Linked DNA regions of Homo sapiens: region 2 is linked to region 1. The links come from fine-mapping of genetic effects on plasma protein levels. A gene starts in region 1. The other region holds a variant in brackets. All regions are shown on one strand. Distances are from middle to middle.

What was found. PIP is the posterior inclusion probability: the model's chance that the variant is causal. Protein levels are from antibody-based Olink assays in UK Biobank. Linkage for the fine-mapping came from a reference panel and not from the study's own genotypes, which makes the PIPs less certain.
Region 2: its variant is fine-mapped to the plasma level of the IL12RB1 protein (UK Biobank, PIP above 0.99).

What each region holds. Positions count from the first base shown.
Region 1 is chr19:18,085,568-18,088,067 of GRCh38, reverse strand. It overlaps IL12RB1 (interleukin 12 receptor subunit beta 1), which reads left to right and starts at 1,134. Exons shown (of 17, transcript NM_005535.3): 1 at 1,134-1,308. The coding sequence starts at 1,245. RefSeq lists enhancers at 803-862, 873-1,222.
Region 2 is chr19:18,057,818-18,060,788 of GRCh38, reverse strand. IL12RB1 (interleukin 12 receptor subunit beta 1) reads left to right here. Exons shown (of 17, transcript NM_005535.3): 16 at 704-895; 17 at 1,176-1,794. The coding sequence ends at 1,181. Among named protein-coding and RNA genes, the nearest start is that of IL12RB1, 28 kb to the left of the region's middle. The variant A/GA (reference allele first, on the strand shown) is at 1,334.

The DNA.
Region 1 (2,500 bases):
TTGTTTAGGTAGACCCAAACTCCTGGGGTCAAGTGATCCTCCCACCTCGACCTCTCAAAGTGCTGGGATTAGAGGGGTGAGCCCAGGTGCACAAGGCTGGAGCTTGGCATGTGGGGAGGTGGGCATTGTGGAGGGCCAGCATGCTGCAAGCTCTTTGTAACAATTTGTTGGAAGGATGAAATTAGGCCATCCAAGAACACTGCCCTCCTTCAGCTCTTGAGTCTCAGATTCAGAAGCTGGCGAGATGGCCCGGTGCGGTGGCTCACGCCTGTGATCCCAGAATTTTGGTAGGCCAAGGCGGACGGATCATTTGAACCCGGGAGTTTGAGACCAGCCTGGGCAACATGGCAAAACCCCCTCTCTTAAAAAAAAAAAAATGCAAAAATTAGCTGGGCGTGGTGGTGCATGCCTGTAGTCCCAGTTCCTGGGGAGGCTGAGGTAGGAGGATGGCCTGAGCCTGGGGAGGTTGATGTTGCAGTGAGCCGTGATTGCACCACTGCACTACAGCTGGGCCACAGATCAAGACCCTATCTCAAAAGAAGAAAAAAAGAATTTGGCAGCCAGGCACGGTAGCTCACGCCTGTCATCCCAGCACTTTGGGAGGCTGAGGTGGGTGGATCACTTAGGGTTAGGAGTTCGAGACCAGCCTGGCCAGCATGGTGAAACCCTGTCTCTACTAAAAATACAAAAATTAGCTCGATGTTGTGGCAGTTGCCTGTAATTCCAGCTACTCGGGAGGCTGAGGCAGGAGAATTGCTTGAACCCGGGAGGCAGAAGTTGCAGTGAGTGGAGATCATGCCACCACACTCCAGCCCGGGCGACAGAGCAGGGCTCCATCTCAAAAAAAAAAAAAAAAATTGGCTAGAGAGGGCCAGAGACCTGGCCAAGTGCATGGAACCACAGGTGGCCCATGGGCCCATGGGGCTGGCATCTGGGTGTTCAGTTCAGGTCTGGGGCCAGCAGGGCAGAACCCCCTAGAACCCTGACTTGCTCCAAAGTCAGACTTGCTCCAGAGTCTGTGGCCGCCACCATCACCACCACCACGGAGCTGACTTCCTGGGTTTCTCTTTCACTTTGACTTGCCTTAGGGATGGGCTGTGACACTTTACTTTTTTTCTTTTTTCTTTTTTTTCAGTCTTTTCTCCTTGCTCAGCTTCAATGTGTTCCGGAGTGGGGACGGGGTGGCTGAACCTCGCAGGTGGCAGAGAGGCTCCCCTGGGGCTGTGGGGCTCTACGTGGATCCGATGGAGCCGCTGGTGACCTGGGTGGTCCCCCTCCTCTTCCTCTTCCTGCTGTCCAGGCAGGGCGGTGAGTCCCCTGACCCTGGCATGGCGGCTCCTCTTGCTGGGTGGAGGCACGTGTATGTGTGGAGAGCTGTGGGCCTGCTGTGTGGGTTGGTTTCATCTCTCTGTGCCTCAGTCTTTCCTGCTGTCAAATGGGAGATGGGCAGTCATGGCTTCTGGGATCGAACTTAGACATCTTTCCTCTGGTCTAGATTTTCTCTTCTGTGAAATGCACTAAATTTTTTCCACCTCCCGGAGTTCAATGAGAAAAAAAACTAAGGAAGGAATAAAAAGCAAGTATGTATCTAATAGGTATACATAGTATAGTATCTTATGTATGTAGTTTACAATAGATAGACATACATAATATAATGTATACAGTCATTTCCATATTTACGGGGCAATGGTTCCAGGACCCTCTGCAGATACCAAAATCCAAAGATGCTCAAGTTCCTGATATAAAATGGTAAAGTATTTGCATATAACCTATGCACATCCTTCCGTATACTTTACTTATTTATTTATTTATTTATTTATTTATTTATTTATTTATTTATTTACTGAGGTAGGGTCTCACTCTGTGTCCCAGGCTGGAGTGCAGTGGCCTAATCATAACTCATTGCAGCCTTGACCACCTGGGCTCAAGTGATCCTCCTGCCTTAGCCCCTTGAGTAGCTGGGACTGCAGGTGCACACTACCATGCCTGGTTAATTTTTTTGGTGTATACTTTTTACAGAGACAGCGTCTCGCTGTGTTGCCCAGGCTGGTCTCGAACTCCTGGGCTCAAATGATCCACTCACCTTGGCCTCCCAAAGTGCTCAGATTACAGGCATGAGCCACCATGCCCAGCCTTCCCATATACTTTTAATAATCTCAGGCCCTGCACGGTGACTCACTCCTGAAAATCCAGCACTATGGGAGGCCAAGATGGGTGGATCACTTGAGGTCAGGAGTTCGAGACCAGCCTGGCTAACATGGTGAAACCCCATCTCTACTAAAAATGCAAAAATTAGCCAGGCTTGATGATGGGCACCTGTACTCCCAGCTACTTAGGAGCTGAGGTGGGAGGATCGCTTGAACCCAGGAGGCAGAGGTTGCAGTGAGCCGAGATTGCAGCACTGCATTCCAGCCTGTGTGGCAGAGCAAGACTCTATCTCAATAATAATAATAATAAATAAACTTTCCTTCTCTGTACACTGGGGATCAGCGGGGTGCTG
Region 2 (2,971 bases), 28 kb after region 1:
AAGCAGGGTGTCCATTTTCCCCATTAACTGGGGCAAAAGTCTCAGGGCCATCACTGATTGGTCCAGCTTGGGTCACATGCCCTTCCCTGAGCCTATGGCTAGAACCAGAGGGGTAGGGAAGGGTCTGATGGGTGGGCTGGCCAGGGTCACATGACCATTGCTAGAGCTGAGGTGGGGTCACTGCACTGTCAACCACACCATCTGTGAAAAGAGGGAGGGAAATTTCCCAAAGACAGATGGGAGTGCTCTTCCTAAGAGGGGCTGAATGGGAGTCAGTGCGGCAGACTCCATCCTCAAATCGGTCTCAGGATATATGGAGTCTCGCTCTGTCACCCAGCCTGGAGTGCAGTGGCGCCATCTCGGCTCACTGCAACCTCTGATTCCCGGGTTCAAACGATTCTCCTGCTTCAGCCTCCCAAGTAGCTGGGATTACAGGCGTGCGCAACCAAGCTCAGCTAATTTTTGTATTTTTAGTAGAGATGGGGTTTGGCCATGTTCTCCAGGCTGGTCTCAAACTGCTGACCTCAAGTGATCCACCCGCCTCAGCCTCCCAAAGTGCTGGGATGACAGGTGTGAGCCACTGCACCCGTCCAGGTCTCAGGATGTTAGAGAATTTAACCAGCAGTGACCTGGTCCGTTCCATCCTGCTGTGGATGGGAAGTAGAGCTCTGCTCACAGCTGTGGCCCTACCCTCCCTCTGCAGACTTGGCAGTGGATCAACCCAGTGGACTTCCAGGAAGAGGCATCCCTGCAGGAGGCCCTGGTGGTAGAGATGTCCTGGGACAAAGGCGAGAGGACTGAGCCTCTCGAGAAGACAGAGCTACCTGAGGGTGCCCCTGAGCTGGCCCTGGATACAGAGTTGTCCTTGGAGGATGGAGACAGGTGCAAGGCCAAGGTCCTGGGGCCCAGTGGGCCAGACGGTCAGGGGTGCAACCCTGCCCGGGGGGTGGGGGGGCTAGACATCCATCGCTCCTGGGATATCAGGGCCTGGAGGCCTGAGGGAGAAACGAAAACATCCACTTTGTCTTACAGACACGAAGAGCGACTATCTCAATCACAACGGCTGGTTATTAAGCACTTATGGCATACCCAGCCCATTCCATCCACTCACATGATTCCCTACCAAATCCCTACAACCACCCCCTGAAAGGAACCATGACTGTTGTACTTTACAGATGTGATCGTTGAGGCTCAGAGAGGGTGAGTGACTCGCCCGAGGCTACGTAGCACACACAGGAGTCACATTTGGACCCAAATAACCCAGAGCTCCTCCAGGCTCCAGTGCACCTGCCTCCTCTCTGCCCCGTGCCTGTTGCCACCCATCCTGCGGGGG[A/GA]ACCCTAGATGCTGCCATGAAATGGAAGCTGCTGCACCCTGCTGGGCCTGGCATCCGTGGGGCAGGAGCAGACCCTGCCATTTACCTGTTCTGGCGTAGAATGGACTGGGAATGGGGGCAAGGGGGGCTCAGATGGATCCCTGGACCCTGGGCTGGGCATCCACCCCCAGGAGCACTGGATGGGGAGTCTGGACTCAAGGGCTCCCTGCAGCATTGCGGGGTCTTGTAGCTTGGAGGATCCAGGCATATAGGGAAGGGGGCTGTAAACTTTGTGGGAAAAATGACGGTCCTCCCATCCCACCCCCCACCCCACCCTCACCCCCCTATAAAATGGGGGTGGTGATAATGACCTTACACAGCTGTTCAAAATCATCGTAAATGAGCCTCCTCTTGGGTATTTTTTTCCTGTTTGAAGCTTGAATGTCCTGCTCAAAATCTCAAAACACGAGCCTTGGAATTCATTCATTCATTCATTCATTCATTCCACATATATTTATTAATCTCTTCCTCTAGGTCTCCTCCAGGAGCACCTAATCCGGGGGAGACAGAGCCGGATGAGAGCTTGGAACCCTACTAAGTTAGGACTGAGCAGGGGAAGGGACGGCCTAGGGGGAGTGGAGCAGCCGGGCACTCCGGTAACAGGAACCGTGGTTTGCCCCCACGCTCCTTCCTCCTCACGCCCACCAACTCGCAGCAGGACCCTTGCCCCCCTTACACACCCTGAATCCTCCCTCTTTCTGCCCACACTGCCCCACCTCCCTCGCGTTCTGCAGCCGCCTCCCCCTGATCCCCACTGCGGTCTGAGCCGAGGTGTGGGGGGGGGCTCCTGAAATCCCACCCCAGCCCTGGCGATTAGCGGGTAGTCCAGATTCTCCCCATGGCCACCAGGTGGCAACAGCGGCGCGCGTTTCCCCGGCCGGGCCCGCCCTGCCTCCTCCCACCGCGTTTGCTAAACAGACTTTTCCGGTTTCAGACAGAGGAGGGGAGTTAAAAAGCCCAGAACTACTGAATTTTGTGGCAAAAAAAGGATGAGACCTCTCGGGGAGAGACCCCTGGCAGCCAATAGGGCCAGGAGGCAAGAGGCCCAGGCCCCGCCCCTTTGGTCTGGGGGCCTCCCTTTCCCCATCGATGCATCTAGATAGGGAAACAGAGGCCTGGATCTCGGTGCCCCAGCCACACGGTGGCTGGTCAGAGTTCTGCAAATGCCCCCCGCCCCGCTCCGGATCTGCCACATCCCAGCTTCTGCTCAAGCCGTTCCCTCCACCAGGCATGCCCTCCCTTGAGCGTTTATCCTCCTTTCTTTTTTCTGAGACGGAGTTTGGCTCTTGTTGCTGGAGTGCAATGGCGCGATCTTGGCTCACGGCAACCTCCCGGGTTCAAGCGATTCTCCTGCCTCAGCCTCCCAAGTAGCTGGGATTACAGGCGCCCGCCACCCTGACCAGCTAAAATGTGTTTGTATTTTTAGTAGAAACAGGGTTTCACCATGTTGGCCAGGCTCGTCTTGAACTCCAGACCTCAAGTGATCCACCCGCCTCGGCCTCCCAAACTGCTGGGATTGCAGGTGTGAGCCCTGGAGGCCCCTGGAGTTGGCTGCAAACCCACCCCTATGCACAGTCCCTTGGGTGCGAGAAGTAGGAG